Regions from separate parts of the Homo sapiens genome. Here region 1 is linked to region 2. Evidence: fine-mapped expression QTL. A gene starts in region 2. The other region holds a variant in brackets. All regions are shown on one strand. Distances are from middle to middle.

The links. PIP is the estimated chance that this variant, and not a neighbour inherited with it, causes the effect.
Region 1: its variant is fine-mapped to the expression of KLHL42 in aorta (GTEx, PIP above 0.99).

The regions. Positions count from the first base shown.
Region 1 is chr12:27,803,267-27,808,638 of GRCh38, forward strand. It overlaps the pseudogene RN7SKP15. Among named protein-coding and RNA genes, the nearest start is that of MANSC4, 26 kb to the left of the region's middle. RefSeq lists enhancers at 1,649-1,818, 4,189-4,358. The variant C/G (reference allele first, on the strand shown) is at 2,257.
Region 2 is chr12:27,777,152-27,782,523 of GRCh38, forward strand. It overlaps KLHL42 (kelch like family member 42), which reads left to right and starts at 3,082. Exons shown (of 3, transcript NM_020782.2): 1 at 3,082-4,051. The coding sequence starts at 3,180. MANSC4 (MANSC domain containing 4) reads right to left here and starts at 3,085. Exons shown (of 4, transcript NM_001146221.5): 1 at 3,059-3,085. RefSeq lists silencers at 51-251, 2,684-2,903, 2,924-3,233 and an enhancer at 3,099-3,598.

The DNA.
Region 1 (5,372 bases), 26 kb after region 2:
TGAGGCAGGAGGATTGCTTGGGCCCAGGAGTTTGGGGCTGCAGTGAGATCTGATTGCACCACTGCACTCCAGCCTGGGCAGACAGTGCAAGACCCCAACTCAAGAAAAATGAAATAAATGGACAACCATTTTCTACACACTCAGGACACACTGATGGAGGAGAAGGAGGATGGCTGACCTAGCAGAGCGACACCCAAATCTAACTGAGCACTTTTTTTTTTCCCAGGAATTATTCTAAGCATTTTTTATTTAAATTATTTAATCCTCACATGAATCCCATGTGGTAAATACAAATATCCTCCGCTTTACAGTTGAGGAAACTGAGGCACTGTAGGTTACAAATTGCCACTTGAGAAAGAGGAGAAGGGAAAACTACATACAGTGGTCACTGGTTTAAAGGGTATCCTTTCTCTTGCTAGTGGAGGAGTGGGTTTCCGAGTGAGCCAGTCTGGGAGCCTCTGGTCCTGCTTTGCAGCAGCGCGTTCCATGGCTGACCTGCCTGGGGGTGAAGTGGCAGCCTCTTCCTGTGGGCATGGTTACAGGAGGTGTGTGGAGGGGCACCTGAACACTTCTGTTGAGGCCAGGGATCCTAGGCTCCTGTTTGTAGGCCATCAACATTTCCTTGGCAATAAAACTTTAAAAACCCATTTGAGGCTGGGCACGGTGGCTCACACCTATAATCCCAGCACTTTGGGAGGCTGAGGTGGAAGGATTGCTTGAGCCCAGGAGTTCAAGGACAGCCTGGGCAATACAATGAGACCCTGTCTCTATTAAAAAAATAAATAAATAAAAACTCAGATGCTGGTAAATCTGATCTCCGGCAACTCCATAGGATAAAGGCCCAGATTTAGAGGAGCCCAGTTTCTTTAACTTAGAGCCCATCTTTATGATGTCTGTCTCTTAGCCACAGGCTTCCTGCCCATGCCTCCACCTTCAGTTTGATGGCGTCAATCTCTCTCTTAGCTTTGGGATAATCTGAAACCATAGGGGTCTGCCGTTCCCAGACTACATCCCAGGGACTGCAGCATTAGTAGAAATGATTACCTCTGTGTGGCAGGAGGTGTTTGGGGAATAAAATACCCACCCTATTTCCTCTTCTTCTTCTTCCTCTTTTTCTCCTTCTCCTCCTTTTCCTCCTCCTCCTTCTCTATTTTTGGAGACAGGGTCTTGCTCTGTCACCCAGGCTGGAGTGCAGTGGCACGATCTCAGCTCACTGCATCCTCGGCCACCTGGGCTCAAGTGATCTTCCCACCTCAGCCTCCTGAGTAGCTGGGACCACAGGCATGTGCCACCACACCCAGCTAATTAAAAATTTTTTTAAAAAAAATTTTTATAGAGATGCGGTCCCGCTATGTTGCTTAGGTTGGTCTCAGAAAACGATTCTCCCACCTCGGCCTCCCAAAGTGCTGCGATTTACAGATGTGAACCACTGCGCCAGGGCCCCCACTCTATTAGTTTGCCTCCTCCGGGAGCCCGATCTTACTATATTTCTGGCTGTTCATGCCCCTTTAACTAAGGCAGAGAACCTGGCTCCTATAGTTCTGCCAGGCACATGTTTGATCCTCTGCAGTCTGCTGCCTGTAGGCAAAAGGGTGAAAGGCATGGACTCTAGAGCAAGACTTTGCTTCCTAATTCTGCTACTGTCTTTCTTTTTTCTTTCTTTTTTTTTCCCGAGACGGAGTCTTGCTCTGTTGCCCAGGCTGGGGTGCAGTGGTGCGATCTCAGTTCACTGCAACCTCCGCCTCCTGGGTTCAAGTGATTCTCCTGCCTCAGCCTTCCAAGTAGCTAGGATTACAGGCGTGTGCCACCACGCCCATCTAATTTTTGTATTTTTAGTAGAGATGGGGTTTCACCATGTTGGCCAGGCTGATCTCGAACTGGCTAGTCTGAAACTCCTGACCTCGTGATCCACCCGCCTTGGCCTCCCAAAGTGCTGGGATTACAGGCGTGAGCCACTGCGCCTGGCAATTCTGCTACTTTCTAGCTGTAGCTTTGGTTAGGCTACTTTGTCTCCCCAGGCCTCAGTTTCTTTATCTGTAAAGTAGGGATAACAATAGTATCCACCCTGTGAAACTGTTGCAAAAAATTGTATGAGAAAATTCATGTGATGTGTTCAGAATGGCATCTGGCACATAACACACAATGAATGTGAGCTGTTGTTATTATTACCAAAGCTGTTTCCTTTATACCTTCAAATGGGCCAGCTTGGCTGGAAGCTTATGCCTTTCCTAAAATATCTTAGCAAAGCCATTAAGA[C/G]GTAGCTAACAAATTCCAGATCCTGGTACAAGTCTTTCACTTCTCCTAAAGGAGCCAACTTGAGTGGTCTGAGGCCCAAGAGACAGCAGCATAATTAGTTGTTTGCTTTCCACATAAGGTCAGGGATGAGAAGATTCTATCTACCCCATCCCTTCCCTTGCTTTAGCTGGCTCCATATTTCAGCTTTAGATATTTGCAACATCCCATCCTAAGTACCAAACGCTTTATTAAGACTTGTTTGAACCAGCCCAGGTAATGTGTCCATTTCTGAGGTAACCACTGTGGCCAGGGGCATGGAGGAGAATCTCCAGTTCAACCACGTGGAATGAAGTCATCTCAGATAATAGGGGTCTGCTTACTAGAAGAAAGGGGTGTTGACTCTTGACTTGCAAAAGGAACAGCTAGATAACCTGTTGGTCAAGCAAAGCCAAGTTTGTTATGCTTACTGTGGTCAGGGAGGACACCACCTTGAAAAAGAATTAGTAGTGCCTCAGAAGGGGAATGTCAGGTTTTGGGGCCTGGGCTGGGTGATTTTGAAGTAGGTCTCAACACTGGGCAGAGTTTCTGATACAAGAACTTTGGGCATAGGACTTTGTGGGCACAATGCAGTGAGAGTCCCAAAGCTAATCTTGGGAGCTTGTTTGGAGGTTCCAGCAGGGGAGCGCAGCTACTCATACACCCTTGACCCAAGACTGGTCCTCCTCTATTGGGGATGGTTGTCCTCTTCGACTGAGCGTGGAGTTTCGGGAGGGACGCACATGGAGCAGTGAGGGAGGAAGGGGTCACCCATCTAGCCAGCCAGATCAGTCGAATCAACCCTGGCGATCAGTGGGGTGAGAGTTGTCACAGGCAGATCACCCTCACATCCCCTAAGCTAGCCTTGATGGGGAAGCTGTTAGTCTTGGTAAGTGAGCTAGCTGGTTGGTTTACAGTGTTATGGAAGATAAGCCTTCTGAAAATACTTGTTCCTGGATACAGCTTCAGCTATCTCTCTCTCAGGGCACACATATTTGTCTCATAGAACAGTTCTTATGTGCTTGTCTTATTCCTCTTCTAGACTGTAGTTTCCTTGATGATAGAGTGTTTCATTAATCTTTTTATCACTCTATGTCAGGACATACACCAGAGCCATGTAACACAGCAGATTCTGGAAGTATTTGTTAAATTGGAAAGGTTTTGAAGCCTCCTTGGGTTTTCTGAAAATATATAGGTTTCTGGTTTATGTAGCCCTAAAATTTCCTTATAGGAAAAAAGTGTTTTCTTGAGGAACAACGGTTATTAGGAAAACAGTGTACTTTTCTCTTCTACCAACGTACATAATGCGTCACGCAGATGGGAGAAGTTTCGAATTCTGGCTGTGGCTGGAAAGGAAGTTTGCCCACAGACAGTAGTGAGGCAAACGCCTAGGAGTTCAGGGGGCCCCGCAGGCAAATGGGAATGGAGCCCCGTCGCTTCATTATTTTCTCATCACTAGAATCAATATTAGGGCTTGAGTGATATTATTGTCACTCGTAGAACTGTTTTTTTTTTTTTCTAAAATCTGAATTGAATGGCACAAATACACAGTTATTCAGAATCTGAATGCCAGCGGAAAGAGATGTAGAAAAGGTAGGCGATGTTGTTGTCAGAAAGTGTGGTCTGACCCCCATGTGGGCCTGTGAAGGGTTTCCTGAGGAAGTCTAGGGGCAGAGATTCCGCTGCTCAGGCTACTTTCAGCCCTGGTGGATTTCGAGGTGCTGCTGGGTAGGAAGACAAGAAGTCAGAGGCAAGAGATCTAGAAAGAGGCACTGTAATAACAAGTGGTCTGTGGCTGGTGGTGACTTTTCTTATACAATCTGGTGTGTATGTATATGTTTGTCTGTTGGTTTTGTTTATTTATTTGAGACAGAGTCTTGCTTTGTCTCCCAGGCAGAAGTGCAGTAGCCTGATCTCAACTCACTGCAACCTCTGCCCCCTGCCTCCTTAAAAAAAAAAAAAAGATACGCTGATTTTTTTTTTTAAGGAGGTAGGGGGCACCGTTCAGCTCAAAACAGGTACTAAATCTTATCTCAAAAACCTTTTAAAATGTGCTGTTTGCTTCACATGCCATTCATTGAGAAGGGGCGCACTGCCTGAAATGAAGTTTGCTTTGAGTTGCCTACCTTCCCCACCTCCCCACATCCCCATGATGCGTGTCATTTTAATGCCTAATAATGTCATTTTAATAATTACAAGTCTGAAAGAACAGGATAGGTAAATCCTATACCGTTAGCCATAGTTTGATGAGATCGGGCATGTTCAGGGTGGTATGGCCGTAGACCGTTAGCCTTACCTTGATTTCAACTTTTAATGAAAAAACACGGTACCTTTCTTAGCTGAGTGCATGAGTTAGCAGGTACAGATGTTAAATAATGTCTATGAATTCAGTGCTGTCAGTGTTCAGTGTCCCATGGAGGCTAATTTCTGTCACCTTCCAGTACCTGGAAGGTACCCACCAGTCAGGATTTTTTAAAAAACCAACAGACACTGACTCTAGCTGATGAAAGAAAGAAAGAAAGAAAGAAAGAAAGAAAGAAAGAAAGAAAGAAAGAAAGAAAGAAGGAAAGAAAGAAGGAAAGAAAGAAAGAAAGAAAGAAAGAAAAAAGAAAGAAAGAAGGAAAGGAAGGAAGGAAGGAAAGAAGGAAGGAAGGAAAGAAGGAAGGAAGGAAAGAGGGAAGGAAGGGAAGGAAAGAAAAGTTACTAAAAAGATAGGATTTAACTCAATCTTTAATAGGACATGAAAGAAACAGAAACGATGGCAGCTCTGGCAGTTGGGAACTCAAGGACAATCTCTTCGGGGCTCCACCAATGGGACAGAAACTCCAACCCACTTTAGGTCTCGTGCCATGAGCCCTGAATGGAAATGGAAGGAGTGAGCACCCTGATTGTCCTGCTGGGGTCACATGTCCAGCCCTAGGCTGGGGATGGGATGGGGCCCCTTGGGAAGTCTCACCGAGACCGTACCCATTGAGGGAGGGGGATTCTTCAGAGCAAAGCCAAGTGTTCAGTGGTAGAGTCAAGACAGTGTTGTTCTAATCCCGGGAATCACCTGATTCCTTTGTCTTAGGTTTCTTTTTTCTTCTTTGAGACAGAGAAAG
Region 2 (5,372 bases):
CTTACCCTGATAATGTTACTGTGCTTGAATTGCCTTTCTAATGCACATCATTCTTTGAGCATGATTTTTTTGGTCTGTTTTAAAAAGGCAAGAAAATACCAGTCTGAGGCATATCTATGACGGCTGGGAAACAAAAGCATCCATTGGTGAAAGATTCAAGAGACAGAGGAGAGACTGAGAGCCTGTTCTTTGTGGCTGACCCACTGAATCTGGCATTGTTGCCGGTTGAGGCATAGAAAAATCGTAGGTCCAAGTCTCTTTGATACAGGGGACGCATCCCAGCAAAATTCCCCAGCCTGATGCTTAATACTGGATGTTACACTCTACCATCCCAAAGAAGCTGCTAAATGCTTGATCACTCACTCCACCTCCTGCTCCAAAGCTTATCGTGTCTCACTGCACCCTCATAGAGAATGGAAGTGTGAAGGGTTGATGTGAAAATGGAGTTTTATCAGTAACGATTTAAAGGCCAGGTGAAACAAGGTGAAGAGATGAATGTTTTTTATAGAATCCAAGAAAACAACTGAGTAAGTCATAGATCCATTTTTATTTCCTTCATTTTTTTCCAGGGAGGCCAGAATCTACTAGAACATTTTCTATGTCTTTTATTTTTTAGTTCCTTATTCCTAGCATTATTATAAAGAAAATAGGCCAGGCACAGTAGTGCTTTGAGAGACCAAGGCAGCAGGATCACTTGGGGTGGCAGGATCCCTTGGGGCCAGGAGTTTGAGGTCTGTCTTGGGCAAGGTAGCAAGACCCTATCTCTATGGAAAAAAAAAATGCATTTTTTTTTGCTGGGCATGGAGGCTCATGCCTGTAATCCCAGCACTTTGGGAGGCCGAGGTGGGTGGATCACGTGAGGTCGGGAGTTCCAGACCAGCCTGACCAACATGGTGAAACCCCGTCTCTACTAAAAATACAAAATTAGCCGGGTGTGGTGGCTCATGCCTGGAATCCCAGCTACTCCGGAGGCTGAGGCAGGAGAATCACTTGAACCCGGGAGGTGGAGGTTGCAGAAAGCTGAGATCGCAGCATTGCACTCCAGCCTGGGCAACAAGAGGGAAACTCTGTCTCAAAAAAAAAAAAAAATGCATTTTTTTTTCTAAAAAATAAAAAGATAAACCTCCTTTCCCAAGTAATAATAATAAACAAAGTAAAAGATGACAACAACACCTCTCTGTGAAGCAGATAAATTTCGTAGTAAGAACCACAAATGTAACCAAACTATGTTGAAAGGATCTCATGTTTCACCTTTGACTTTCTTTTAGTTCTCTGGTTTTTAACCCTTTCTCCTTCCTAAGGTAAAATGTTAGCATGGTAGGATGTATCTTCTTTAAATAGGGGAAATGTACTTATGAAGAAGATATTATTTAACAATCTGTCATTCAAGAAGAAAGCTGAAGCTTGTAATAATAAAAAAAAAAACCAAACACATATTCTCTCCAAGTTAAGGACTGTTTATCATAGGTGGTTCTCAAATCTTGGTTTGGGGTAAGTTTTCAAGGTTTTCTGTTTTTGTTTTGTAAGATAAGAGTGAACACACCCTCTGCTTCCTCCCAATCCTTCTCCCTTCTCCTACCCAAAGATAATCCAAACAATATATTTCTCCCCCCACCCCCTTCCTGGGATGAATTCATTAGCAAGACAAAAAGTCCTTCCTATTATTATTTGGGGTGGGCCTTCTAATTGCAATGTTCAGTGAGAGAACATAGGAAACAAGTGGTCTCTCTTTTCCGAGACGGCGTCTCGCTCTGTCGCCCAGGCTGGAGTGCAGTGGCGCGATCTCGGCTCACTGCAACCTCCGCCTCCCGGGTTCCAGCAATTCTCCTGCCTCAGCCTCCCGAGTAGCTGGGATCACAGGCGCGTGCCACCACGCCCGGCTAATTTTTGTATTTTTAGTAGAGACGGGGTTTCACCATGTTGGCCATGGTGCTCTCGAACTCCTGACCTCGTGATCTGCCCACCTGGGCTTCCCAAAGTCATGGGATTACAGGCGTGAGCCACCGCGCTCAGCCAAACCGCACGTGTGGTCTCTCTTAATAGTCCTCAGATGATGGGGGCAGGGTAGGTGGAGAAAGGGGGTGACAAGAAAAGCTACTTCTTGCAGACATTTATGAGCCAATTTTGTCAGATCTTTTGCGCCAGGATAACATTCCGTAATGGACTGGACTGAAGTAGAAAAGCAATGGCTCATAGAAAACATGGTTTAAAACCAGAAGCCACGTGATGTAACTTTATTTAGTCGGGCTGCGCTTTCATCTTTCTTTTAATAACTTAGGGAGAATAAGGGGCCCCAGTGGCAAATGCAAGCTCCCCTGCCTCCCAACCCGATTCCTCTGAGAACCTGCTGCCATCTGCCTGGACCTCCTGTAAGATGGCTCCTACGCGACCACGCTACCAGAGAATCAGCTCTACGTGCCACCAACATTGCCACCAACTGTCCATAGATCGCCTGCGTGCCTCAGCCCACTGACACTCGATGCCGGACTGGGCCAGAAGGACGACCCCATATTTGATGCCTTTTTGTCTCCCTGGACCAGAGACTCCATCCTTCCCTTTCCTCCCACGCTCATTTCTTTTTCTTTAGCCCGTGTAAAGCAGCGTGGGAGAGAAAACGAATTTCTTCTCCCTGGGGTACCCCGGAGCATCACTGCAGCCCCCAACAAGCGGCGGAGCCGGCGCGCCCCGGGCGGGCGGAGAGGCTGCGGGGACGCGCGCCCTCCGCCTCCCGCAGCTGCGCGTCCGCAGCCGAGGCGCCCGGGCCCGCAGCTTCCCGGGCCTCCCCGAGAGCCGGATCCAGCCGGCAGGTCAGGCCGGCGGCTGGGGTCCCGCGGGCGGAAGTGAGAAGGGCGGCGGGGGAGGAGGCTGCTGGCTGGGAGCTGGAATTCCCTTCCCGCCTGGCGCCGCCCGGGAGAGCCCGCGCGAGGACGCCCGCCGCGCTCCGCCGGCCCTTTTTTGGCGCTGAGGGAAAGGAGAAGGGCAGGGCCGCCGCCTCGCGGGAGCGGGCCCCGGGAGGAGGGGCCGCCGGAGAGGCCGGGCGAGCGCGGGCGGCCCTCACCTCGCCGCTCCTCCCGGGCCGCCATCCCTCGGCGCCCCGCCCGGAACCGGCGCGCGCGTAGGGGCTGGGAGGCCGGCGCGCAGATCTGGCGGTGAGCGCTGCCGCCCCGGGGCCCCCAGCCATGTCGGCCGAGGAGATGGTGCAGATCCGCCTGGAGGACCGCTGCTACCCGGTGAGCAAGAGGAAGCTCATCGAGCAGAGCGACTACTTCCGCGCCCTCTACCGCTCCGGCATGCGCGAGGCCCTGAGCCAGGAGGCCGGCGGCCCGGAGGTGCAGCAGCTGCGCGGCCTCAGCGCGCCGGGCCTGCGGCTGGTGCTGGACTTCATCAACGCCGGCGGGGCCCGCGAAGGCTGGCTCCTGGGCCCGCGCGGGGAAAAGGGCGGCGGGGTGGACGAGGACGAGGAGATGGATGAGGTGAGCCTGCTGTCCGAGCTGGTGGAGGCGGCCTCCTTCCTGCAGGTCACGTCCCTGCTGCAGCTGCTGCTGTCCCAGGTGCGGCTCAATAACTGCCTGGAGATGTACCGCCTGGCGCAGGTGTACGGGCTGCCCGACCTGCAGGAGGCCTGCCTGCGCTTCATGGTCGTCCACTTCCACGAGGTGCTGTGCAAGCCCCAGTTCCACCTCCTGGGGTCTCCTCCCCAAGCTCCAGGGGATGTCAGCCTGAAGCAGAGGCTGAGGGAGGCCCGGATGACTGGGACTCCTGTCCTCGTGGCCCTCGGGGACTTCCTGGGGGGACCCCTGGCCCCTCACCCCTACCAGGGGGAGCCCCCGTCCATGCTCAGGTACGAGGAGATGACTGAGCGTTGGTTCCCGCTGGCCAACAACCTTCCTCCCGACCTGGTCAATGTCAGGGGCTATGGGTCTGCCATCCTGGACAACTACCTCTTCATAGTGGGCGGGTACAGGATCACTAGCCAGGAGATCTCCGCTGCGCATTCCTACAACCCCAGCACCAACGAGTGGCTCCAGGTGGCCTCCATGAACCAGAAGAGGTAAGCACCCCGGCAGAGTGCTGCTGCCTTCTCATTCATTCACTTGTTCATTAGTTCATTACCCCAGTGTTTACTGAGCCAGTAAATAGGGGAGGGTGTGCTGTGGTGGAAATGACATCTTCAGGAATGTTGTTGGCCTTGGCGCTGGCAAAATTCCCAATGAACTAAGAAATTGCGAAGAGGACGTCCCCAGTGAGGTCAAGAAGTGGAGTGGTTTTTTGGCAGGTATTGTGCCTTTAGGTGAAACTGCTTTCTTTGCCTCTGTTCTTGTGAAAAAAGATGTTGTGGTTTCCTACAAGAATACTTTAAAAGAAAATTGCCCCTTAATTTTTAAAAAATTTGTCTTAGTTTTTAGGATTTGATCCTGATGATAATGATACACTGGACAGTAACCTGTAACACTGACTTTGGGGGATTTTTTTCTGATGTCAGTGACTGTGACAACAGAGTCTTCCACACTGTGATACCCATCATGATCAAGAGATAATCACTGGAAATGTATTAACGTTTGCAATAGGGGTTGCTTTTCTTATTTTTTATCCTCTCTTTTGCTTCCTTCCCTGGACAGCCATCGTCATGACCCACAGCTTGAGCCTGGAAGTGTTCAACTACAGAATTGGAATATTTTCATTTACGCAACCTTCTCCCCCTCCCATCCTGCAAATCTCTCCTGCCTCCAACAAGGGTGACTTGAAGAAAGGAAGAGGAGGAGCTTGAGGAGTGGGATGAGAGGGGAGAAGGGAAAGGAACCAGGGAAGGAATATCAAAACAAGAGCAAAGAGCATATACAGGAAGAGATGGTAGGAAATAAAGATGGTAGCGCCTAGGAGGCCTCAGCGTCATTCAGAAGCAGGGAAAAGAATCAATGTAACTCAAGAAAGGATGAAAATACCCTTTCTTCCCATCCACGTGTTTCCATCTCAATCCTCACAGGGTCCTGGTCCTGAAGTGTGGAGCAAGGAGTTGGGGAGCTCACAGCTGGGCAAAGAAAGTCTTAACAGTAACAGAGAATCCTTTATATATCTGTTTATTTGACTCGAGGGTCCTCCTCGGCCAGGGATTATTTGGGGGAAATAACTGGCTTTATTTCTCCTATAATATGAAATTCATTTTGAAAAGTATGCTTTTTCCCCTGATAATACATAGTTACAGAAAACTGGAAAATGGAAAAGAATGAAGAAGCAAAAAGATGATTATTCCTACCCGCTCTTCCTAGAGGCAGTAACCAGGTTGGCATATTTCCTGCCAGCCCATTTTTAATGCATTATTTACACCATTGAGATGATACCATATTTAAAATTTGGTATCAGAAGTGTTATTT